5 separate regions of the Homo sapiens genome follow, and regions 2, 3, 4 and 5 are each linked to region 1. The links come from fine-mapping of genetic effects on gene expression. A gene starts in region 1. Each other region holds a variant in brackets. All regions are shown on one strand. Distances are from middle to middle.

Region 1 (5,099 bases):
TTTATGGCAACCACTGGAGTGTGCAAACACGGGAGAGGCATGACACAATGGACATTTTAGGAGGGTCACTTTGCTGCTGTATGGAGAGTGGCCTGGAGGGGGCAGGGTGGAGGCAGGAGACCACTGAGAGCTGTTACAGTCATCCAGGTGAGAGGATGGTGGCCTAGGCCTTGGAGATGGAAGAGGAGGGCAAAGTTGCCACCTGTTAAGTTGCCACCTGTTTGGGAAGCAGAGTGGTCAGGACTTAACTGAAAGACTGTGTAGGGGTGAGGGCGAGCATGAGGTCAAGGATGACTCCAGCATACTGAGCCGGATGCCCAGGGACAGGGGCACTATTTCCATGGATCCCCCGGGAAGGGGAAGGGAAGAGTAACCTCCTCCCCCAAGGCTCCACGGAAGGGGCAAGGGCTGGTGACGAGGGGAGCAGAAGGGAAGGAGAGGGAGAAACAAAGTGTATGCATGTATCCAAATGTGTACAATTATTATGTATCAATTCAACTCATTTGAAAGTGGGTCTGGAGAGCAAGGGTGGCAGAGATAAATATATCTTCTGCACTACCACAGGACCTGAGGGGCAAGGCACGGGCAGGCCCTGCAGGAATACAGGGATGCCCTGGGCCCTTCCAAGAACTACCAGAGCCTTGGTACTGTGGGGAGAGTAGGGGTCAGTGAGTTTCTCCAGGACTCCCTTACATTTTACACACGTGGACCCGGAAGCCCAGGGGAAGGGGAATACCTTCCAGCTGATGCATCCCCACCTGGCACACAGTCTGGTTTTTTTTTTTGAGATGGAGTCTCACTCTGTTGCCAGGCTAGAGTGCAGTGGCGCGATCTCGGCTCACTGCAACCTCCGCCTCCGGGTTCAAGCAATTCTCCTGCCTCAGCCTCCAGAGTAGCTGGGACTACAGGCGCGTGACAACATGCCCGGCTACTTTTTGTACTTTTAGTAGAGACGGGGTTTCACCATGTTGGCCAGAATGGTCTGGATCTCTTGACCTCGTGATCCGCCCGCCTCGGCCTCCCAAAGTGGTAGGATTACAGGCGTAAGCCACCGTACCCGGCCAGTCTGGGGTCTTTTAAAAATACAGACCCGGGGCTGGGCGCGGTGGCCCATGCCTGTAATCCCAGCACTTTGGGAGACCGAGGCGGGCGGATCACTTGAGGTCAGGAGTTCGAGACCAGCCTGGCCAACATGGTGAAACCCGTCTCTACTAAAAGTACAAAAATTAGCCAGGCGTTGTGGCAGGCGCCTGTAATCCCAGCTACTTGGGAGGCTGAAGCAGGAGAATCGCTTGAACCTGGGAGGCGTGATCGTGCCACTGTACTCCAGCCTGGGCGACAGAGCGAGGCTCTATCTCAAAACAAACAAACAAAAAAACCCCACACACACACACAAAAAACAAAAAACAGGCCGGTGCAGTAGCTCACTCCACTTTGAGAGGCCAAGGCGGAAAGACAGCTTGAACCCCACAGTTGAGACCGGCCTGGGCAACATGGCAAGACTCCGTCTCTACCCAAAAAAAAAAAAAAAAAAAAAGGGCCGGGCGTGGTGGGTGTGCCTGTGGTCCCAGATACTCAGGAGACTGAGATGGGAGGATCCCTTGAGCCCAGGAGTTCCAGGCGGCAGTGAGCCGTGTTCGCGCCACTGCACTCCAGCCTGGGTGACAGAGCAAGAATATGTCTCAAAAAACAAACAAACAAAAAAAGGCACATAACCACGATCTACCCTCGTAAAACGTTTCCAGAGCGTCCCAGCGGTGCCCCTCATCATCTGGCGGCCCCTACGCCTCTCTGAGACTCACAGACCTACTCCCCTCTCCAGGGGGCGGAGCCCACACCGCTGAGCATTTACTCTTGTTCTTCCCTCTGCCAGGGGCACCGTTCTACCCCTTTCTGCCTGGAGAAACTGCCGTTTTTCCTTAAAGGATCCTCGAAGCCGGAAGGAGCAGCCACCTCCCACTCCCGGCTGCTGCAAGCAAGCTGCTTTGACTTCTTTCTAGAGTTGGGGATTGCTGCTGGAGTCCGAGTCTCAGGCCCAGAGTGGGTGCGATGGTCTTGCTTGCACCCTGTATCCCCCGGCAGACGCCCGGGAACTCTACTAAGTGGGTGACCCCAGAGAGCTCGCCCCCACACTCCGACTCCGAGTCCAGCACTCGGTCCACTGCACAGGGACCTCGCGCCCCACAGCTGCGTCCTCTCTGACCTTCGCAATCCGGTGCGCGGCCCGCGGAACGCCCCGATCTCCAGGGGCACGGAAGGCCGAGGCGTGCCGGGGGAGCCAGGAGCAGCTGGCTGGCGGGCGCCGCGGGCCTCCCCGGTCACGTGACACCCCGGACAACGTGCGCCGTCACGTGACGGCAGAGCCTGTGAGCGTTTTTCTCACGTGACGGAGGCGCCTGCACGTGGACCAATGGGGAGGCGGGGGCGGGGCCGGCAGGGGCGGTGCGCGGGAAGGGACCCCGGACCCGGAGGTCGCGGAGAGCTGGGCAGTGTTGGCCGCTGGCGGAGCGCTGGGGCAGCATGAAGTGCCTGGTCACGGGCGGCAACGTGAAGGGTGAGTGCAGGTCGGCCTGGCAGCGGCGGTGCAGCAGCCGCGGAGCCGCCAGCCTAACCCCCTTCCGCTCTTCTCCCCGCAGTGCTCGGCAAGGCCGTCCACTCCCTGTCCCGCATCGGGGACGAGCTCTACCTGGAACCCTTGGAGGACGGGGTGAGGGGCTAGGGTGTGGGGGGCGGGTGGGACTCCAGCCGGGAGCGGGTAACCCGGACTAGAGTCTCGCCCCCACTAGGCGGGATGACCGCTGGCAGATTTGTCGGCAAAGTTTCAGTTTCTTAGTCTGGCGGCTGTCATCTTCCCAGGCCGGTGTGTGAATTGAGGAAAGCTGTCCTGCGAGCTCCCAGGGGGTGACGTGCACTTAGAGAAACTCGGGGAAGGCCTGGGTGTGCGACCCCTCCTCTGCGGCAGCAGCGCCGGGGCCGACTCTGAAGGCTTCCATGGGGAAAGGAGGGTTTTTCAGCAGGTGGTGGCGGAGCGGGAGGACGATAGGGCAAGTGTGTGAGCAGAAGCAGCCAGAGGGCTGGGTCTGTGGCTGCCCCCTGACCACGTCCCTCTCCCTGCTCTTCGTGGCCCAGCTCTCCCTCCGGACGGTGAACTCCTCCCGCTCTGCCTATGCCTGCTTTCTCTTTGCCCCGCTCTTCTTCCAGCAATACCAGGCAGCCACCCCTGGTCAGGACCTGCTGCGCTGTAAGATCCTGATGAAGGTGAGGCCCTTCCCTCAGCAGTGGCACTACTCCACCCCAGGAATCTCCACCAGCTGTGCCTCTGCCCTGGGGTACTCAGTAGATGCTAAGTGGGGAGAGAGACACGTGCAAGCCCAATCCATGCAAAACACAGGGAGGGCCATGGTAAAAGCATCACAGCGGGGACCTGAGAGGGTGGTGACGCTCAAGTTCGTCAAGAAAGGTAAGCACGTCTTTTGGCCGGGCGCGGTGGCTCACGCCTGTAATCCCAGCACTTTGGGAGGCCGAGGCAGGCGGATCACGAGGTCAGGAGTTCGAGACCAGCCTGGCCAACATGGCGAAACCCCGTCTCTACTAAAAATACAAAAATTAGCTGGGCGTGGTGGCACGCGCCTGTAATCCCAGCTACTCGGGAGGCTGAGGCAGGAGAATTGCTTGAATCCGGGAGGTGGAGGTTGCAGTGAGCTGAGATCGCACCACTGCACTCCAGCCTGGGTGACAGAGCGAGACTCCATCTCAAAAAAAAAAAAAAAAAAGGTAAGCAGGTCTTTCAAGGCATTCCAAGCATAAGGAAGAGCATGAATGAGGCCTAGAAGGATGCCAGTGCCCGAGGTGACGTGGGAGCCCTTTTCCCAGAGTTACATGCTGGGCCCATGATGGGTGTGGGCCTGCATGGGACAGGAGAGCTTGTTGCAGAGATGTGATGCTAGGCTGAGGTGTCTTATCCCATGCAGTCTTTCCTGTCTGTCTTCCGCTCACTGGCGATGCTGGAGAAGACGGTGGAAAAATGCTGCATCTCCCTGAATGGCCGGAGCAGCCGCCTGGTGGTCCAGCTGCATTGCAAGTTCGGTGAGTGGGCAGCCGGCCAGCCAAGGGGTGCCTCAGCAGGGAGGTCGGCGAGGCCCACTGAGACCCTATCGCCCATCCAGGGGTGCGGAAGACTCACAACCTGTCCTTCCAGGACTGTGAGTCCCTGCAGGCCGTCTTCGACCCAGCCTCGTGCCCCCACATGCTCCGCGCCCCAGCACGGTGAGCACACCCCTGCCCTCAGCTCAGCCCCGGGTCTCTCTCTTCCTTCTTTGGGGCCCCAAGGGGTTGATTTTAGAAGGTACCTCTTTCATTTTCCCTACAGAGTTTCTGTGAACCTCAAAGACATCCCATGGCCCGCTATGTGCTCAGGTCCTTACCTGGCTCTTTAAAGGCAGACGGTGGCATGGAGGAGGGGCAGGCGCCTCCTTGCTCCATTCTCCTTACTGTTAGGAGCCTGCATTCTCCATCCCAAAGGTCTGACTTGACTTTCTGGCTGCTCAAACCCATTCCAACTCCTCCTCTAGGGAGCACATTTCTGGCCTGCCACCAAATCTCTTGTCTGGCTTGAGTAACCTTGAAGGTCTGCCCATAACCTGTGGCTCAGAGGCTCAGACCCCTTCTCCGGCCTGGGCATCCTTCCAGAGGTGTTCCCCATTCAACGGCAGCCTCTTTTCCTGACTGCCCAGGATCGAGGAGTCCCCAAGGCCAGGGCAGGAGGCTGGAGGGAGGCTGAATAATCAGCTATGGGGTGGAGCTGTTCTGGGCAGTCCGAGCACTGGGGGCTGTCTGGGGCCAGGGAAATGGGGACTCCAGTTGAAGCAAACGTCCCTGGCGAGGACCAGCTCAGAGAGGAGTGGGCTCTCCCCCTGCTCCATGCTGGTCACTGCTTGCATTCAAGTGGCCCAAGGTCCTGCTCATTTCTCAGGGTGACTGAAGATCCCTTTGGGTCCTGACATCTGTTTCCCCAGGTTCTTTTGAGCCAGCACTGCTCAGAGCTCTTTTGGGTAGTGAGAGACGGGGGCCAATTCCTTGGTCTGCATTTAGGGTGGTGT
Region 2 (5,099 bases), 54 kb after region 1:
CGGCGGCCGCCGCAGAGGCGCCGCAGGTGCGGGTGCAGCCTTACAGCGGACCCGAGGCCCCTTCGCGTTCTTGCTCCTCATAATGGCATCCGCAGGAGTCTCCAGGATTGGGTGAGGCCCCGCCTTCCCGGCCCCCGACGGAACGCACACCTCCAAGGGGCCCCATTACCGCCCCCAACAAATAAATGTAGAATCTACACGGACAGTGGATATGTTCACGTGACTCTTTTTAAGTTATCAAAGTTAATGCTCTTTTTTTTTTTTTTTTTTTTTTTTTGAGACGGAGTTTTTGTCACCCAGGCTGGAGTGCAGTGGCGCGATCTCGGCCCACTGCAACCTCCGCCCTCCCAGGTTCAAGAAATTCACCCCAGTAGCTGGGACTACAGGCTTATACTACCACGCCCGGCTAATTTTTTGTATGTTTAGTAGAGACGGGGTTTCACCATGTTAGCCAGGATGGTCTCGATTTCCCGACCTCGTGATCCGCCCGCCTCGGCCTCCCAAAGTGCTGGGATTACAGGCGTGAGACACCATGCCCGGCCTAAATTTCATGCTCTTGGTTAACAATGTAAAGAAAACAACAGCAGGTGTTGGGGTGGTTTTTTTTTTTTTTTTTGAGGCAAGGTCTGTCACTACCGGGCTAGAATGTAGTGCCATGATCATGGCTCACTACAGGCTCGACCTCCTAGGCTCAAGGGATCCTCCTGCCTCAGCCTCCCAAGTAGCTGGGACTACAGACACACACCACCACGCCTGGCTAATTTTTCTTTTACTTTTTGTAGAGATGGGGTCTCTTGCTCTGTCGCCCAGGCTGGTGTGTTTTTTGTTTTGTTTTGAGATGGAGTCTCGCTCTGTCTCCCAGCCTATAGTGCAATGGCGCGATCTCGGCTCACTGCAACTTCTGCCTCCCGTGTTCAAGCAATTCTCCTGCCTCAGCCTCCCAATTCGCTGGGATTACAGGTGCCTGCTACCATACCCTGCTATTTTTTTTGTATTTTTAGTAGAGATAGGGTTTCACCATGTTGGCCAGGCTGCTCTTGAACTCCCGGGCTCAAGCAATCCTCCTGCCTTAGCCTCCCAGAGTGCTGGGATTACAGTTGTGAGCCACCGTGCCCATCCAGAAAATAGCAGTGTTTATGGAGCGAGTGGAAGACCCAGGAGTCCCATTTTTCAGGGTAAACACCTGTGCATTCTGCTGAGCTTTCTTATTACAATTTGAAAGGGGGCCATGGCCAGTGAGTCCCTTGCACCTTGCCTTCTTTTCTCCACCATCTCCCTCGAAGGCCTGGAGATCCATTCACAGGCCTCTCTCTTTCTCTAGCCAGCGCCTGTGACAAGGAGCCCAGACTGGCCTCTCCAGACCCACCCCATCCCGTTCCACAGGTGGAATGTACCCCCGTTCCCTTAGGCCAGCGGCTCTGGGGCACCGGCTACTTCCCTTATTCTTTCCTTGAGCATCCACTGCCCTGGCTGACCGATGGCACCCTCCCTTTCCCAGAAAGAGATGGATGGAGGACGAAGCGGGGGAAGAGCAGAGGTCACAGGAGCCTTGTCTCTGGCTAAAAGAGGCCCCCACTGTGTGTCTGAGGGTGACCTCGGGCTTGTCTCCCATCTCATTCCCATTGCCACACCCCATTGAGGAAACAGGCACAGAGAGGTGCGGTGCCTGCCTGAGGTCATCCAGCCGGATGCAATCCCCATCGGCTTGGGTCCAAAGCCCTTGCTTTTCCTAGTGCTCTATAAACCCTGGGGCTAGAAGGATCATCTAGATCCCACCCACCTTCCTTCCCACCCCGAGGCCTGGGCACATCCTGTTCTCTCCATCTGGAAGCTCTTTCCTCAGATCCCAAAAAGGCTCCTTTCCCCACTCGATTCAGGTCTCTGGTCAGACATCACCTCCTCCTAGGGCTCTCCTGGACCATTCCTCACCCAGCCACTCTTTGGTCTTACTTGTCCTGACTGCATTGTTCTTTTTTTGGGAGACAGGGTCTTGCTCAGTTGCCCAGGCTGGAGTGCAGTGGCACGGTCCTAGCTCACTACCGCCTCACACTCTGGGGCTCAGTCCTCCCGCCTCAGCCTCCCAAGTAGCTGGGACTACAG[G/T]CACGTACCACCATGCCTAGCTAATTTTTATTTTTGTAGAGATGGAGGTCTCCTATGTTGTCCAGGCTGGTTCCAAACTCCTGGCCTCAAAAAATCCTCCTGCCTCAGCCTCCCAAAACTCTGGGATTACAGGTGTGAGCCACCACCCGGCCTGTGTTCTCCAGCGCCGCCTGATGTTGCATCAGGTGCTTATTGGTGTATTTGGTTTGTGTCGGCCTCCACCAGGATGTCAGCAAATTGAGGGGAAGGACTTTGCCTATCTTCCTACTGTATTCCCAGCACCCTGAACAAGATCCAACACTCAGTATGGGATCAAGTAATGTATGAGGAATGAATGAATGAGCAGCAGCCCTGAATGTAGAATTGAACAATACTCATAATCACAATTCTCAGGATCAATGTCTGGCACCTATGAAGGAGAGGGAAGGAAGGGCATCTCTCACCGGAGAAGGAGTGAGTCTTCCAGACGGCAGCAGGAGACTGGTCCCCTGGGATGTGGTAGGCAGGAGGTGTGTGGCTGGGCAATGTCTTGGGGCTGAGCCCACCTTCATGCCCATTTTCTCTAACACAAAACCCTCCTCCATGGACCACTGAGAGAACTCTTTTTTTTTTTTTTTTGGAGACAGAGTCTTGCTCTGTTGTACAGGCTGGAGTGCAGTGACGCGATCTCGGCTTACTGCAACGGAAACCACCTTTGCAAAACTATGACTGAGACAGTGAAAGAGATCTAACTTCACCAACCATCTTGCTTCTAATCTCTCTCTTTTTTTTTTTTTTTTTTTGAGACAGAGTCTCGCTCTGTCGCCCAGGCTGGAGTGCAGTGGTGCGATCTCGGCTCACTGCAAGCTCCGCCTGCTGGGTTCACGCCATTCTCCTGCCTCAGCCTCCCGAGTATTTGGGAATACAGGCGCCCACCACCTCACCTGGCTAATTTTTTTTGTATTTTTAATAGAGACAGGGTTTCACTGTGTTAGCCAGGATGGTCTCAATCTCCTGATCTTGTGATCAGCCCATCTCGGCCTCCCAAAGTGCTGGGATTACAGGCATGAGCCACCTCATCTGGCCCTTGCTTCTAATCTCTAAACCGTCCTTGTTCATTTCTGGGCATAGGCTGAACTAACTTTGGGAGAAACTTAGTTTATAAACAAAGATGGTAACAGCCCTTTCCCAAAGCAGACTTCCCTGTTGCCTGGGGACTAGATTGCCTTTGTAGGACTAACATTAGCCACAAGATTAGAAATTATGGTTTAGGGCCGGGCATGGTGGCTCACGCCTGTAATCCCAGCACTTTGGGAGGCCGAGGCGGGCGGACCACCTGAGGTCGGGAGTTCGAGATCACCCTGGCCAACATGGTGAAACACCGTCTCTACTAAAAAATGCAAAATTAGCTGGGTGTGGTAGCACATGCCTGTAATCCCAGCTACTCGGGAGGCTGAGGTAGGAGAATCGCTTGAACCCGGGAGGCGGAGGTTGTGGTGAGCTGAGATCACGCCATTGCATTCCAGCCTGGGGCAACAAGAGCAAAACTCTGTCTCAAAAAAACAAAACAAACAAACAAACAAAAAAGAAATTATGGTTTAGGAGTTATGCAGCTGGAGGCTATAAGATTCGGACCCTCCCTAAACTGCTCCTAAGGTCAGCGCTTGAGATATTTGCAGACCCTGCCCTTGATGGATCAGCTGGCACCACCAGATCAATCAACTGGCTCATCTGATCTTGTGGCCCCCACCCAGGAACTGACTCAGTGCAAGATGACAGCTTTGATTCCCTCTGATTTCATCCTTGACCAATCAGCACCGCTGGCTCACTGGCTTCCCACCACCCACCAAGTTATCCTTAAAAACTCAGCTCCCTGAGAATGCTCAGGGAGTCTGATTTGAGTAAGAATAAAACTGCAGTCTCCTGCACAGCCGGCTCTGCGTGAATTGGCTCTGTCTAGGCAGCAGGCAAGGCGAACCCCTCGGGGGTTTACACAACCCGCGCTTCCTGGGTTCAAGCAATTCTCCTGCCTCAGCCTCCCGAGTAGCTGGGATTACAGGCATGCGCCACCACACCCGGCAAATTTTTTGTATTTGTATAGATGAGGTTTCACCATGTTGGCCAGGCTGGCCTTGAACTCCTGACCTCAGTTGATCTGCCTGCCTTGGCTTCCTAAAGTGCTGGGATCACAGGCGTGAGCCACCGTGCCTGGCCTGAGAACTCCTCTTTATTCCGCAAAACCCTTCAGGCATTCTACCCCATCCTGTCCCACAGGTGGAGTCTGCCCCGCCTCCCTCAGGCTGGCGGCTTTGGGGTACCAGCTACCTCACTTATTCCTTTCTTGAGCATCCGCTGCTCTGGCTGACCAAGGGTGATGGTCTGCTGCTCTTTCTTCTGGACAGAAATCACGCATTATGGGTGGGATTCCCTTTGGGGTCCTTGGACGTGGGACTGGCCCACTCCCCAAGAGGTAGGGTTTGGAGTGTGGACCAGAGCTGAAAGCAAGTGGCTGATGCTGAGGTTTTATTTCCCAATCTGCCTGCCATGCTGAAAAGGCCCTGGGAGCCCTGCCCAGAAAAAGGGAGAAGGGCACTGCGGAGTGCCCTAATGGGGACCGAAGTCCAGGCCCTGCGCTCAGAGTGTGGACTGCAGTGGGATGGGGAGGGTGAGAACTTCCCTTGTGGAACAGGAGGCAGTGCCATGGTGGGGAGGCCTGGGGGGCAGGCGATCTGCCACTCAGGCGCTGGCCTGTGGCTCAGTATTGGTCCCAGGGCTGAGTGAGACCGGGGGGTGCCCACTGCTGTCATCAAATTAATGGCTAACAATCACGAACACTTCATAGGGATTCACGCTCCTGCAAGATGGGTACCATTATTATGATCCTCATTTTACAGACGAGGAAACTGAGTCCCAAAGAGGCTAAGAGCTTTGTGGAAGGTCACACAGCCTGTGAGTGGTGGAGCCAGGATTCAAACAACCCCTGATGGTCACCAGAGAGTGCACTCTTTTTTTTTTTTTTT
Region 3 (5,099 bases), 25 kb after region 1:
CCTGGGAGGTAGAGGTTGCAGTGAGCTGAGATCACACCACTGCACTCCAGCCTGGGCCGACACACTGAAACTCTGTCTCAAAAAAAAAAAAAAAAAAAAAAAAAGCGGAGCGAGCGAGAGAGATAGGCTCTCACTGTATTGCCCAGGCTGGAGTGCAGTGGCACAACCAGGACTCACTGCAGTCTCGACCCCCGGGGCTCATGTGATCTTCCCACCTCAGCCTCCCAAGTAGCTGGGATTACAGGCCCACACCACCTCAACCAGCTAGTTTAAATTTTTTTTTTTTATAGAGACAGGGTCTTGCTATGTTGCCCAGGCTGGTCACAAACTCCTGGGTTCAAGCAATTCTCCTGCCTCAGGCTCCCAAAGTGCTGGGATTATAGGCAGCCACCGCACCAGGAGAGGCTGGATCTTATAGACATCCTGGCCCCTGTGTGCAAGTCCACTGGGTCCAGAAGTGAGGAGGGGGCTGCACAGATGTGTGGAGACCCTGGCCCAGGAGGGCCTCTCTGGGAGAACGTGCAATAGGGCAAAGCGCTGGCAGCTGGGACAGAAAGCTGCAGGGCTGGGACCTCCGGCCTCCATCCAAAGGTAGGGCTCAGGGCTGTGTGCTCCAGGCTGCTCTCCCGGGCACCCCACCCCTAAGGGCGGGCCCTAGTACCAGTCTCTGCCTGCTCCGGCTCTCCCCGCCCCTCCTTTCCATCTCTTCTCCATGGTGGGCCTCCCTCTTTCTTCATGGCAGCCCTACGTCTGTGACCCTCGACGACAGTCCCTGTCCATCTGTACCTGGCCCTCTGTCGGGACTTCCTCTGTGTCTCTGAAGACCCCCGTCTCTCCCTGCCTGCTCCGTGCCCTCCTCCTGCTGGGTCCGTGTCCCGCCACACGCCCCCAGGTCTGGGACGTTTTCGTGGCTGACGGGCGGGGGGGGGGGGGGGCGCGTCCCCGGCGGGTCCCTATCGGTCCCTGTCGGTCCGTCCGCCCCGCGCCGCCCCCGCTGGGCACTGGGCATGCCCCAGGCGTTTCTATATAAAGCGGCGCCGCTTGGGCCGGGCGCTGTGCCACTGCCACCGCCGCCGCCGCTGCATCCCGCCCGGTCCGAGTCCGCCCGCCACGCCCGCCGAGCCGCTGCCGCCGCCAGGTACCCCAGCTCCGGCCCCGCCCCGGGGAGAGCCAGGGAGGGGGGCGGCCGGGGCAGGAGTCGCGGGGACGAGGACCCCGGGCGCCCGCTCCCCGCGGCGGGACCCTCGACGCTACGCCCCCCACCCCCGGGACCCGGTGCCCCCAACTCCCCCCCGCGCTGGAGGGGCAGAGCCAAGCCCGGACCCCAGGGCAGGAAGGACCTGTGAGCCGCACTGGGGCAGGAGCCACTCGGTCTGGGCAGCAGAAATCCCTCCCTACCTTCGGGGTGGGGGTGGGGCTGCCTTGGCCTCTCTCTGCAGGGACAGGTGTCGGCCACCTCTCCACTCCCAAAGTCTAGGGGCTGGAAGGCCAGGCAGGGACTTGGCTGCCCTGACTCCTTCGTCTCTCTGTCCCTCTGTCTCTGCCATCAGTCTCTCAGCCACTCCACCCACGAGATGGTGAGTCTTCTGTGGTCCCTCCCCCACAAGGCCCAAGTCCCTGGGCAGAGAGTGGGCCCAGAGGACAGCAGGCAGCACCTAGGACCTAAGCCTGGGAGTTGCCCCCTGCAGACAGCTTAGACCCACGACCAGCTCCCCCACCCCCACCCTGCGGCTGCATCCTGGGAGGTGGGCACTCTTAGTGCCCTGTGACATTCATTCATTCCATGGCCCCTCAGGGAGCTCACCTTCTAGGAGACGGCACAGAGGCTCTGGCCCTGGCAAACTGGGATTCGAGCCCAGGCATGAGGCCCAGTCCTCTGCCGTCTGGGCCACAGCACACCATCTCCCAACAACCAAGAGATTCTCTTCGTCCCAGCCTCATCAGCCCCCAGGGGATGGGAGAGGGCAGGCACCAGGCAACAAGGTCCAAAGAGACCTCACGACTTGCTCAAGGTGGCCGAGCCTGTCCCCTGGAGGACAGACTCAGCTGCCAGGCCTGTCCAGGCCTGGGGACTGCAAAGAACAAGAATTCCATTCACACGAAGCCTCCCAGCAGCCCCATATTGGGGGGGCGCCAGCCTCAGAGAGGGGAGGGACGTTAGGTTTCATCCAAAGAAAGCATTTCCGTGACTCAAAATATCTGCAGGGGGGATACTGTCTAGCCTCCTAATGTTTAGCCCAGGGCTGGGCACACAGTAGGGCTTCAAGACCTACGTGGGGATGACAGTGGAATCACATTTAGGTGTCAGCACACTCCATGCCGGGTCATGAGACAGAAATAAGCCACCTCAGAGTGATGGCTGGGTTCGTTCATTCATCTACTCTTCAGTCAACAAACACTTACTGAGAAGTGGCTGTGTGCCAGGCACGCTTTAGGTGCTGGGGTTGCCTCCATGAACAAAACAAGCAGAAAACTCTGCTGCTGTGAAGCAAGCTAAGGCGGAGCCCAGCATGGCAGGGGCGGGAGGGGCTGGCTGGCAAGACATTGCTTCCTGCCCTCCCCCCAGGGGCACCACACAGAACAGTTTACAAAGCACTCCCACGGTTGCGTTCCCATTAACAAGCCTTC[G/A]CCCCCAACACAAGCCTTTCCTCTCCTAGTCCCCGGGACGGTGTCAGCCCTGAACATAGCCCAGGCTGGGAGAGTGGGGGGCTTACACCCTTGGGTGACTTAATGTGCCCACTGGCCCACCCTGCCCAAGACCTACCACTTCTGCCCTCTCAGCTCTCCCTGGATCCATCGGGTCCCGAGTGGGATTGCCCACTGGGCTCCAAGGACCTGGAGGAAGAGGGCCCCTGGGGAGGGGGCTCTGGCCTGCCGCCCACAGGCTGCTTCCCTGGCTCCTGGCGCCAGGACGTGGGCCTGGACTGCAAGGGATCCCCCGAGGGGGCCGAGGCCCGGGCTTGGACTGTCTACTACTACAGCCTCCTGCAGAGCTGTCTGCAGCAAGCTGGCCTTCCGGAGACTCAGGACCGCGGCCAGGTGCCCCGCACAGGTGCCCAAGGGCTCCCTGGAGGGAGGCACCTCTGGGGGCAGGGAGGGGCCCTCAGCCCAGTCTGCTTGCTCATCCCTGTCAAGGTCGGCCCCTTCCCCTAGGCTCTGGTTCCATCTGAAGGCAGGGAAGGCACAGCCAGTTGGCCTAGGGTAGGCGGACATTGTTTGCAAGGGCATCTGGCACCAGTGAGGTCAAGGATTGGGCTCCCTGCCCTCACCCCCTCCCCAAAAAGACCCAGCCCTGGGATTGGGAAACCACGTTGTGTGGCACCGAAGCTTCTAGAGAAAGGTCTTGGGAGCTGTGGTGGAGGCAGCTCAGCAGCTGAGACCCCCCAGACTCCTCCCCTTCTGCCCCTCCACGCCTGTTACATATATCAGACTTTGTGTGGACAGAGGGTTCACAGGCAGAATACCTGAGAATCACAGACTTGGTCCCATTGTACAAACTTGGAAACTGAGGCTTGGAGGAACACTGACTCCTCCAAGGTTACACAGAAAGTCAGAGCTCGGGCTAGAACTCAGGTCTCCAGTCACCTAGCCCACAGCACCTCTGGAACAGCTGCAGAAAGGGGAAACCAGCTTCACGGGGCAGGACTGGCGGGCACCTCCATTCCCTGCCTGTCCCCTGTCTCATCCGATTCCTGGGAAAACTCTGGGGGCTCAGGGTGGGGCCGTGGGTGTGGAGGTGGTGGAAGGTGGGCAGAGAGACAGCAAGGGCGCCCCTGGTGAGCTGGGCCATGTTCTCTTTCCCGAGGCTGTCCTGGGGCGGAGGTGACCTTGTGCGTTCTGGGCTCCCCCAGCACCTTTCTGCCTGTGCTGCTGGAGGGTGGGGTCCAGAGCCCGGGTGAGTGTATGCTCAAGTTTCCCCATCCCCTTCTACAGAAAGGGCAGCCCTGCCCTGGCCCAGCCACATCCCAAAATACCCGCCAACCCTGGCAACTGCCTGCATTCCACCGGAGCAGCTGCCATGCTGAATGGGGATGGGTTCTGGGATCAGCTGCTTCCACTCCGCTACCCGGGGGCCCGGGCATAGGGCATCAAGCCTTCCCTGGCCAGCCACTTGCCTTCTCTGCCCACAGGAAACATGCTCCTTTGCCTGTCCCCTGCTTGGCTGATGAAGGTGCCAGCACCCGGGCAGCCGGGTGAGGCAGCCCTGCTAGTCTCCAAGGCTGTGAGCTTCCACCCTGGGGGCCTGACATTCCTGGATGACTTTGTCCCCCCGCGCCGTGCCACCTACTTTTTGGCAGGCCTGGGCCTGGGGCCTGGCCGGGGCCGAGAGGCAGCAGAACTCGCCCGTGACCTGACCTGCCCCACAGGAGCTTCGGCTGAGCTGGCCCGGCTGCTGGAGGACCGGCTGCTGACAAGGCAGTTGCTGGCCCAGCAGGGTGGTGTGGCTGTGCCAGCAACCCTGGCTTTCACCTACAAGCCGCCGGGGCTGCTGCGGGGAGGGGATGCCAGCCTAGGGCTACGGCTGGTGGAGCTGAGTGGCAAAGAGGGCCAGGAGACGCTGGTGAAAGAGGAAGTGGAGGCTTTTCTGCGCTCCGAGGCCCTGGGTGATATCCTGCAGGTAACAGACTCTCGCCCACCCTGAGGTCTGTACAGATGCCAGCAGGATGGGACCCAGGCACGGTTACCAAGTCTGGCTGGAAAGGTGTCCCTACCTCTTAGCCCTGCCGCTGCCCTGCCCCATCTCTGGGGCAATCCCCTGCCCTTTTGCCTCAGTTTACTCACCGGCTCCTGTGGCGGAAGTGCCCCACCCTGCAGTACCTGGGGTGGTGTCCAGGAGGCCCCTTTCCCCTCCTTGCTGCAGGTAGCTGTGAAGCTCAGTGGCTGGCGCTGGCGGGGGCGGCAGGCATGGCGTCTGCACCCGCGGGCAGAGCTGGGTGCAGTGGTGGACACAGTGCTGGCGCTGCTGGAGAAGCTGGAGGAGGAGGAGAGTGTCCTGGTGGAGGCTGTGTACCCACCTGCCCAGCTGCCCTGCTCAGGTGAGAGCCACCTGGGCTGACCAGGGATGGGAGTTTGGTGTGGCCTTCTGGCCACTCTGTGCT
Region 4 (5,099 bases), 290 kb before region 1:
CTCTCCATTGCCCTCTGTAGCTCTGGATGTGGTGCCTACCACGGGCCGTTGGCAGTCCCGATTCTGTGTCTCTGACCAGGGGTTGCTCAGGCCACTGACTCTGCACACACATGGGGCAGTGAGTGTGCCAGGGAGCCAACAGCCTCTGGAAGCAGCCCACAACCAATGGCAGGTGGCAGCGGGTGGATAAGGAAAATGTGGAGTCCCCTTCTACACTGTCTCCCAGAGGTGTCCAGCCAGGCAGCACCAGCAGCCACTGCAGTGACTTGCTCGACGATGCACCCTTCGTTGGTTCTCTTCCCTCCCTTGTCTTACTTTCCACTCCTCTGTCAGTATTTCCTAGGACCATTTCCCAAATAAACTTCTTGCACTTGAATCCTTGCCTCAAGGTTTGCTTCTGGGTGAATTCGAAGTAAGGCACAGTGGCTCACACCTGTAATCCCAGCACTTTGGGAGGCTGAGGAGGATTGATCACCTGAGGTCATGAGTTCGAGACCAGCCTGGCCAACATGGCGAAACCTCGTGTCTACTGAAAATACAAACATTAGGCGGGCATGGTGGTGGGTGCCTGTAATCCCACCTACTTGGGAGGCTGAGACAGGGAGAATTGCTTGAACCTGGGAGTCAGAGGTTGCAGTGAGCAGAGATCACACCACTGCACTCCAGCCTGGGTGACAGAGTGAGACTGTCTCCAAAAAACAAAAACAAAACAAACAAAAAACCTACAAAAAAACAAAGACACACTCACTTGCTTACATTAAGAACAGGGTCTGGGCAGGGCGCAGGGGCTCATGCCTGTAATCCCAGCCTTTTGGAGTGTGTGTCTATGTGTTTATCTGTCAGGGTGAAGGTGGCTCTCAGAATTGATTGGGGGCAGCTGGGCGTGGTGGCTCATGCCTGTAATCTCAGCACTTTGGGAGGTCGAAGTGGGTGGATCACCTGAGATCAGGAGTTTGAGACCAGCCCGGCTGACATGGTGAAACCCTGTCTCTACTAAAAATACAAAAAATTTGCCAGGTATGGTGGCAGACGCCTGTAATCCCAGCTACTTGGGAGGCTGAGGCAGGAGAATCACTTGAACCCAGGAGGCAGAGGTTGAAGTGAGCCGAGGTCACGCCACTGCACTCCAGCCTGGGCAACAAGAGCAAAACGGGGCCGGGCACAGTGGCTCACGTCTGTAATCCCAGCACTTTGGGAGGCCAAGGCGGGTGGATCATGAGGTCAGGAAATCGAGACCATCCTGGCTAACACGGTGAAACCCCATCTCTACTAAAAATGCAAAAAATTAGCCGGGCCTGGTGGCGGGCGCCTGTAGTCCCAGCTACTTGGGAGGCTGAGGCAAGAGAATCGCTTGAACCCGGGAGTGGAGCTTGCAGTGAGCTGAGATCGCACCACTGCACTCTAGCCTGGGCAACAGAGCCAGACTCCGTCTCAAAAAAAAAAAAAAAATAGAGCAAAACGTCATCTCAATAACAAAAAAAAAAAAGGAAGAAGAAGAATTGATTGGGGGCTGGAGGACCAGGTTTGGGATGGGCAGGAAGCCAGATGGGAATGATGTCCATCTTTCTCCACTTCCTCAGGCCACCTGCTTGGGAGTCAGCAACCTAAAAAAGGAGGTCTGCTGGGTCAAACCGAATTTGACCCGGCTGCACCCGGTCAGGAGAGGGAAGATGTCTCTATTCTCCCCAGTACCACCCATGGGGCATCTCCAAGGGAGACTGGGTACCTGTAGGAACAACCTCACTGAATGGAGTTGGATAGGAACCACCAAGAAATGCAAATGTACCTCGGCCTTTATTATTCTTCTCCCAACCATAAGGCAAAGCTTAGACTACAAGTTTGCCACCACCCTCCACACCCCATGTCCTCTGCCACACTTCACACTGCTCCTTTTCTCTGACCCACTTGGATGCCTCTTCCCATTCTTCTGTCACTGTCTCACTCTAGTCGCTATCACCACTGCCCATTACCACCTCCTCCCTCTGGGTATCTGGCCTCCAGCAACTAACTGCCTGCCATGTGCCCAGTGCTGGCTGCCAAGCTGTTTCTCCCATCTTTAGTGGCTGTCAGTGATCAACCTTGTCCCATCCTGGGCTCTAAACTTGCCACCAGCTCTTTCTCCCCGGGGTATCCTCTACCTCTTCTTCCTCCAACTCCACCCCTACCAGCTGGGCCTTCCTGGCAGTGACTCAATGTCTTCCTCCTCCAATAATTTCACTCCCATTTGAGTCTTTGCTCAGATGCAAATACTTTATGTGCCTGCAATGTACTCCTCCAATAGTTACTTTTACAAATTCCACCTCTTTCCTGGCAAACCCTCTTGCCTGTCTCCCCGCCCCCAACATCGGCCACTACACCAGGGGCCCCTCTCCTGTTACCCTTCGCAAGCATTTAGTGAATGAGGAAAACTATTTTCGGGGCCTGATTCCAGACATGGTGGAGGAAACAGGCACACAGCAAGCCCATTCTGTAGGAAGCTTACTCCACTGGAGAGAGAACCAGACACACTCACAGAAGTGAGGCCAGGCGTGGTGGCTCACGCCTATAATCCCAGCACTTTGGGAGGCCAAGGTGGGCGGATCACCTGAGGTCAGGAGATTGAGACCAGCCTGACCAACATGGTGAAACCCCGTCTCTACTAAAAATACAAAAT[T/A]AGCCAGGTGTGGTGGCGCAGGCCTGTAATCCCAGCTACTCAGGAGGCTGAGGCAAGAAAATTGCTTGAACCCGGGAGGTGGAGGTTGCAGTGAGCTGAGATCCTGTCATTGCACTCTAGCTTGGGCGACAGAGCGAGACTCTGTCTCAGAAAAAAATCAAACGCAAGCGAGCATGCAGTAATTGCCAAGCTGGGTGAATGGATTTTCAGGGCTGTGGGAATTCACAGAGTGCAGCAGGGAAGGCCTGTGCATGTGTTTGGAGGCAGAGGAGGCGGCAGGGAGGAGAGAGTGTATCCAATGCCTGTTTGAAGGGGAGGACAGCATAGACCTCATTTCACACAGGAGGGTGCAGGGGAATCTCCAACAGAGAAGTCACTGGCCAGGTGGTGGGGAAAGTTCAGGGCCGTAGCAGCCACAGGGACAAACCCGCAGAGAAGACATCTGAAGTTCTGAGAATAAATGAAAGCCTCAAGAGAGAGAAGAGCAGAGGGTTGAGGACTAGGCCTTGCAGGAAGCCCAAAGGCAGGGGTAGGGGAGAGGGGCAGAGGGTGAGCCTGCAGGAGGGAGAAACTCTTGTTTGTTAGCCTGGGCCACTGTGGCCTGTTTAGGACTCTACGCTCTCCTTCCTGTGTAGGGCACCTGTGCGCAGTGCCTGGACCTGCCTTGGTTCTCACTGACCCTCTGGCATAACTGGTGGTCACAGGAAGTTGGTTTCCTGTGAGCTTTCATGATGCTTCCCGAATCCACCCACTTCTCTCTCCACTTCTGTGGGGTAGAAGACTGTAGACAGAAAGTAGTAAGTTTAAAAAAGGAAAGAAAAAAAGAAAAAAAGAAGGCCAGGCATGCTGGTTCATGCCTGTAATCCCAGCACTTTGTTTTGTTTTGAGAGAGTCTCACTCTGTCACCCAGGCTGGAGTGCAGTGGCGTGATCTCAGCCCACTGCAACCTCCACCTCCCTGGTTCAACCTATTCTCCTGCCTCAGCCTCCAAAGTAGCTGGGACTACAGGCACGCACCACCACTGCTGGCTAATCTTTTGCATTTTTAGATACAGACCAGGTTTTGCCATGTTGGCCAGGCTGGTCTTGAACTCCTGACCTCAGGTGACCCACCTGCCTCAGCCTCCCAAAGTGCTGGGATTACAGGCATGAGCCACCACACCCGGTCATGCCTGTAATCCCAGCACTTTGGGAGGCTGAGGTGGGAGGATCACTTCAGCCCGGGAGTTTGAGGCTGCAGTGAGCCATGATCACGCCTCTGCATTTCAGCCTGGTCAACAGAGCGAGACCCTATCTCAAAAAAATATATATGTCATAGTAAGATCTGGCTTCTCTCAGAGAGAAAGGGGTCACCTTATCCACCCCTGCCTCAGTCCCTTTGTGCTGCTATAACAAAATAGCTGAGACTAGATTATTTATTTATTTTTTTTTTTGAGAGGGAGTCTCGCTCTGTCACCCAGGCTCGAGTGCAGTGGTGCGATCTCGGCTCACTGCAAGCTCTGTCTCCCAGGTTCATGCCATTCTCCTGCCTCAGTCTCCCGAGTAGCTGGGACTACAGGTGCCCACCACCATGCTCGGCTAATTTTTTGTATTTTTAGTACAGACGGGGTTTCACCATGTTAGCCAGGATGGTCTCGATCTCCTGACCTTGTGATCCACCCACCTCGGCCTCCCAAAGTGCTGGGATTACAGGCATGAGCCACCGTGCCCGGCAAGACTAAATAATTTATAAAGAATAGAAATTTATAGCCAGGAACAGTGGCACGTGCCTGTAGTCCCAGTACTCAGGAGGCTGAGGTGGGAAGATCCCTTGAGCCTAGGAGTTTGAGACTAGTCTGGGTAACATAGTGAACTCTCATAGTTCTGGAGGCTGAGAAGTCCAAGATCAAGGCACTGGCATCTGGTAAGGGCCTTCAGACTGCATTGTCAGATGGCAGAAGAGCAGAAGACAGTGAACCCGCTCTCTCTCTTTTTTTTTTTTAAGACGGAATTTCGCTATGTCACCCATGTTGGAATGCAATGGTGTGATCTCAGCTCACTGCAACCTCCCCCTCCCGGGTTCAAGCGATTCTCCTGCCTCAGCCTCCCAAGTAGCTGGGATTACAGGCACCCACCACCACGCCCGGCTAATTTTTGTAGTTTTTATTAGAGACGGGGTTTCTCCATGTTGGCCAGGCTGATCTTGAACTGCTGACCTCAAGTGATCCACCCACCTCAGCCTCCCAAAGTGCTAGGATTACAGGCGTGAGCCACTGGACCCAGCCCCCACTCTCTTTTATAGCAACATTAATCCACTCCTGAGGGCCCGAGCCCTCATGACTTAAACACCTCCCGTTAGGCCCCACCTCCAAAACTGTCGCACTGAGGATTGTTTCCAACACATAAACTGTGAGGAACACATTCAGACCATAGCAACTCCCAAGATTATTCCAGGGGTTTTCAAGCCT
Region 5 (5,099 bases), 120 kb after region 1:
ATCATGCCATTGCACTCCAGCCCGGGTGACAAAGTGAGACGCCATCTCAAAAAAAAAAAAATAGGTGAATGGTTAAACAAACTGACATATCCATACAATGGAATATTATTGGGCAATGAAGGAAATCGCCTATCTAGCCATGAAAAGACATCAATAAATCTTAAATGCATTTTGCTAAGTGAAAGAAGCCAGTCTGAAAAAGCCACATACTGTATGATTCCAATTCTGTGACATTCTGGAAAAGGGAAAACTATACAGAAATTGATCTGTGATTGCTGGGGCCTGGGGTAGAGGGAGTGAAACTGAATAGGTGAGGCATAGGGGAGTGAAACTCTTCTGTATGAGGAAACTTTTTGTTTTTGTTTTTGTTTTTTTTTGAGACGGAGTCTCACTCTGTCACCCAGGCAGGAGTGCAGTGGCACAATCTCAGCTCACTGCAACTTCTGCCACTCGGGTTCAAGCGATTCTCCTGCCTCCGCCTCCCCAGTAGCTGGAATTACAACTGCACGCCACCATGCCCAGCTAATTTTTGTATTTTTAATAGAGATAGGGTTTCACCATGTTGGCCAGGCTGGTCTCGAACTCCTGACCTCAGGTGATTCACCCACCTTGGTCTTCCGAAGTGCTGGGATTACAGGCGTGAGCCAACACTCCTGACCAACTTTCTGTGTTTTTATTTTTTATTTTTTATTCAGGGTCTTGCTCTTTGCCCAGGCTGGAGTGCGGTAGTGTGATCATGGCTTACTGCTGCATCCAACTCCTGGGCTCATGCCATCCTCCTTCCTTGGCCTCCCAAAGTAGATTACAGGCGTGAGCCACGGTTCCCGGCTGAGTAAACTTTAATGTATGCAAATGTAAAAAAATTCATCTTGGAGGTCAGCGGATCCCAGGATGGAATGCAGAATGCAACCAAAGAAACTAGCTATATTACAAATGTGTGCAACAACCTCACTGTAGGGGCTGAAGGAATAAGGTGCTGACCTAGAAATGAGGGAGTCTGTAAGACTAAAGGCAAAAGGAACTGCACATAAGCACCGCACTCGTTGAGAAAGTTGTACCCCACAGGAATATGGGTTAACAGTTCCAAAATCACTCCACATGTAGCTGGAACTGAACAATTAAGTAAACAGAGGATGGATGATGGGGGTCACTGTTGGAATGAGAAGTTACAGATAAGCAAGTGGGGTGGCTAGAATGATCCATGTGGTAATGGGCTGGAGTTGGAAGCATCAGGATGAACTCATGTACAGCTTAATAGAGATTCAGTTGCTTACATACAGGAATATTTATGAATGTCTGTATACACAGAATAGCATGCACACACACGTATCTCCTCATGTTATCAGCAGAGAAGACCTGGAAACAATTTCCCCTCCCTGCTACACCCACTAGCAACAAGCACCCAGATCTTGGTTTCTTTTCCTTTTCTTTTCTTTTTTCTTTCTTTTTTTTTTTTTTGAGATGAAGTCTCTCTCTGTCACCCAGGCTGGAATGCAGTGGTGGGATTTCAGCTTACTGCAACCTCTGCCCCCCGGGTTCAAGCCATTCTCCTGCTCTGGGGTGGGGCATGGTGCCTCCTGCATAGCTGGGATTATAGGCACCCGCCACCACGCCGGGATTCTTTTTGTATTTTTAGTAGAGGTGGGATTTCACCATGTTGGTCAGGCTGGTCTTGAGCTCCTGACCTCAAATGATTTGCCTGCCTTGGCCTCCCAAAGTCCTGGGATTACAGGTGTGAGCCACTGTGCCCGGCCCCTGCCCCCACTTTTTTGTTTTTTTAGAGAGACAGGGCTTTGCTCTGTTGCCCAGGCTGCAGTGTGGTGAACTGGGTGCTATCCTAGTTCACTGAAGCCTTGAACACCCAGGGACAAGTGATCTTCCCACTTCAGCCTTCCAAGTAGCTGGAACTACAGGCGCACACTACTACACCTGGCTAATTTTTAAAATTTTTTTGTAGAGATGGGGTCTCACTATGTTGCCCAGGCTGGTCTTGAACTCCTGGACTCAAGTGATCCTCCCACCTTGGCGTCTCAAAGTATAGGAATTACAGGCATTAGGCACCATGCCCCGCCCCAGATCTTGGTGTCTAATACCATTCTCCAATAAAATGAACCAGGGCTCCTCGGAGAAATGACTGATAGTAGGACTGGGGCAGGAAATATACAAGATGATCCTGGAGCAGCTTGTAGTGCCAAAGCATAAAAAGTGCTAAAAATAAACAAACATACACAAAGATGGGGACACAAAGCCAATTGAAAGACTCCCTATGGATCGATCTACCTATCTATCTATCTACCTATCTATCTATCTATCTATCAATCATCAATCATCTACCAAGATATCCTATTGTTCTGTTTCTCTGGAGAACCCTGACTGATATATAGGGGAATCTGGGCGTGGGGTATTGGGAAACCCTCTGTGCTATCTTCACAGTCATTCTGTAAACCTATAGGTCTTTTGTTTGTTTGTTTGTTTGTTTATTTTGAGATGGAGTCTCACTCTGTTGCCCAGGCGGGAGTTCAGTGACACAGTCTTGGCTCACTGACACAATCTTGGCTCACTGAAACCTCTGTGTCCCGAGTTCAAGCAATTCTCCTGTCTCAGTCTCCCGAGTAGCTGAGATTACAGGAGCCTGTCACCACGCCTGGCTAATGTTTGTATTTTTGGTGGAGTCGGGGTTTCACCATATTGGCCAGGCTGATCTCGAAATCCTGACTTCAGG[C/T]GATTCACCCGCCTCGGCCTCCCAAAGTGCTGGGATTACAGCCATGAGCCACTGCACCCGGCCTAAATCAGAAGATCTTATAGCTTGGGGCTGCTCTGGCAAGAATCGGAGGAGTTGGGCAGCAGGTGCCCCCTGTAGCGGGGGCAGGGGTTCTGGACTTGCCATAGTTTCAACCCTGCCCACTGTTCCTTCCCCAGCCTAGTGCAGCCTCGATCTCACAGGCTTAAGGGATCCCCTGCTCCAGTTGCTATCTGTTGGGAAGTGTGTGTGAGATTTGGGGGAGCTGGGAGCACTTCTTTTGCCAGCAGACACACTGCCCTGATTCAGACCACCCCACAGCCACTCCCAGTTCTCTAGCCGCAGAGCCTGCCAGGCTGAGGCCTGGGGAGGTGGTGGGAGGCTGACCCTGAGTAGGGTTCTGATTTCCCTTTTCCTCATGGCCATCACTACCCCTCAGCCCCTGCAGCAGGGACAGGCATCTTCTCAGGCAGCAATACCATCTGTACCAGCCGTGAGGGTGGTGGAAGGAAGGGTGGGAGTGTGGATCCTGGCTCCCAGAGAAGCCACTGAGGCTGGGGCAACTTATCCACATCCCTAGTCCTGCCAGATTGGCAGAGGTGATTACCTAATTGAGGATTAAGGATTAATTGAGATCTGCCAGGAGAGTGGTGCTGAGGCCACTGCAGCCAGCTCCAGCACCTCAGCATCCAGTCTCCAGAATGCGCAGCGCACATCCCCAGGCCGCCTGCCTGCTTTGTCCCAGGGCCATCTTGTTGGCAGGCGCCATGTGAGGACCAGGCACAGGCACTGGGCACTCTCACCCCTTCATGATGAGGAAGGTCAGGGGTCGTTCGCTCCCAGCAGGCAGAAGCTGCAGATGAGGCTTGCGGCATAGCTAGAAGAGGCCAAGATCTGGCCTGGGCCGGTCCTGACTCCGAGGCACCCTCCCTAGTTGGCACTGTAGTTTCAGAGTCCCTGGGCCTGGGTGCAAGTCCCACCACCCTTCATCCTGATTGTGTGTGGCTTTATGCCACTCCCGTGTTCTCCTGGAACCTCTGTGCAGGCAAAGGCCCTGGATTAACCTGGGGGTAATGGAAAGTCATGGCGAGGTCCTGAACAGGGGTGTGACAAAATGCAAGTGGCATTTTAGGAAGAATAGCCTAGCCGCGTGTAGGGATAGAGGGCAGTGAGGCCACGTAGTCTCTAGCAGGTCACTTTGACTTGGTGCTATTGTTTATGTTATTATTATTTTTAGTTAAAAAAGTGTTTTTTAGAGACAGGGTTTTGTTCTGTTGCCCAGGCTAGAGTGCAGTGGTGCAATCATATAGTTCACTGCAGCCTTGACCTCCTGGGTTCCCGTGATCCTCCCACCTCAGCCTCCCAAGTAGCTGGGACTACAGGTATGCACCACCACACCTGGCTAATTTTTGCTTTATTTTTGTAGAGATAGGGTCTCGCTATGTTGCCCAGGCTGGTCTCAAATTCCTGGCCTCAAAGTGCTGGGGTTGCATGCATGAGCCACTGCACCTGGCCCGCGTGCTGTGGCTCTGATGTTCGTGTCCCCTCCAAAATGCATGTTGAAACTCAATCCCCAGTGCAGCAACGGTAAGGGGTGGGGCCTTTAGAAGACGATCGGGCCATGAGGGCTCTGCCCTTATGGATGGGATTAGTGCCTTATAAAAGGGCTGGGGGTGGCGGTGGGGCGGGGGGAGTAGCCAGGCCCTCATGTGCTTCCTGCCTTTCTGCTACGTGAGGCACCCTCTGGAGGAAGCAGCTCAAGGCACCATCTTGGAAGCAGAGACCTGGCCCTCTCCAGACACCCAACTGCCTGCACCTTGACCCTGGACTTCCCAGCCTCCATAACTGTGAGCAATAAATTCATACTGTTTATAAAATACCAGTCTAAGGTATTTTGTTATAGCAGCAGGAAAGGATGAGGGCACTCAGCCTGTCAATTTCTTCAATCTGGAAAATGGGGCCCTGAAGACTGGGATATGCTTTGAGTGTCTGGGGTCCTCCAGGAGGAAGATGCTGAGATGGAGTTAGGGAGGGAGGAAGGTAAAGGGGGAGGAAGCAGGACTGGGCAGGCGAGCCTCTGACTCCACGCAGATCTGTCTGCCTTGGCCGCCCCAAAGGGGAGCTCAGAGCAAAGACTGCCCATTAGAGGAGCCTTGCATTAGGCAGAAATGTCCAGGTCCTGGTTCCCCATGCTGTGCTCAGTTAGTGGCTGGGGGCTCCCTGGATGAGTGAGGTGTCAGCCCAAAAGCTGAGGTGTCTCCTGAAGGGGCCAGTGGCTGAGCCCTTTTGCTAACTCACCCACTTCTCTAAGTTGAACTGCGTGTACTTGAAGTGAGCTCTGAGCAGTGTGCCTCCAAGG

Alleles and levels. Positions count from the first base shown, and alleles are read on the strand shown. Sizes are in standard deviations (SD) of each study's normalised expression. Not every link is listed here.
For the expression in minor salivary gland of the gene that starts at base 2,462 in region 1, A is the high allele of the variant in region 4 and T is the other (moderate effect, 0.65 SD a copy in GTEx).

What was found.
Region 2: its variant is fine-mapped to the expression of RAD9A in whole blood (TOPMed, PIP above 0.99).
Region 3: its variant is fine-mapped to the expression of RAD9A in cerebral cortex (GTEx, PIP 0.98). The same link has a PIP of 0.9 or more in blood mononuclear cells and esophagus muscle.
Region 4: its variant is fine-mapped to the expression of RAD9A in minor salivary gland (GTEx, PIP 0.96).
Region 5: its variant is fine-mapped to the expression of RAD9A in transverse colon (GTEx, PIP 0.98).

Annotation. Positions count from the first base shown.
Region 1 is chr11:67,389,525-67,394,623 of GRCh38, forward strand. It overlaps RAD9A (RAD9 checkpoint clamp component A), which reads left to right and starts at 2,462. Exons shown (of 11, transcript NM_004584.3): 1 at 2,462-2,554; 2 at 2,637-2,707; 3 at 3,130-3,258; 4 at 3,972-4,086; 5 at 4,167-4,266. The coding sequence starts at 2,521. It overlaps LOC100130987 (a long non-coding RNA gene), which reads left to right. Exons shown (of 4, transcript NR_024469.1): 4 at 1,874-2,163. RefSeq lists enhancers at 1,629-2,544, 2,579-3,083 and a silencer at 2,309-2,678.
Region 2 is chr11:67,443,709-67,448,807 of GRCh38, forward strand. It overlaps a transcript of CORO1B not described here. Among named protein-coding and RNA genes, the nearest start is that of CORO1B, 2.8 kb to the left of the region's middle. RefSeq lists enhancers at 1-503, 164-263, 2,474-2,553 and a silencer at 1-33. The variant G/T (reference allele first, on the strand shown) is at 2,101.
Region 3 is chr11:67,414,626-67,419,724 of GRCh38, forward strand. CARNS1 (carnosine synthase 1) reads left to right here and starts at 1,053. Exons shown (of 10, transcript NM_001166222.2): 1 at 1,053-1,138; 2 at 1,551-1,577; 3 at 2,782-3,052; 4 at 3,806-3,895; 5 at 4,131-4,618; 6 at 4,862-5,036. The coding sequence starts at 1,575. RefSeq lists an enhancer at 1,791-2,626. The variant G/A (reference allele first, on the strand shown) is at 2,629.
Region 4 is chr11:67,097,031-67,102,129 of GRCh38, forward strand. No RefSeq gene overlaps it. Among named protein-coding and RNA genes, the nearest start is that of KDM2A, 20 kb to the right of the region's middle. RefSeq lists enhancers at 2,861-2,970, 3,164-3,664, 3,381-3,500. The variant T/A (reference allele first, on the strand shown) is at 2,654.
Region 5 is chr11:67,513,461-67,518,559 of GRCh38, forward strand. No RefSeq gene overlaps it. Among named protein-coding and RNA genes, the nearest start is that of CABP2, 7.4 kb to the right of the region's middle. The variant C/T (reference allele first, on the strand shown) is at 2,723.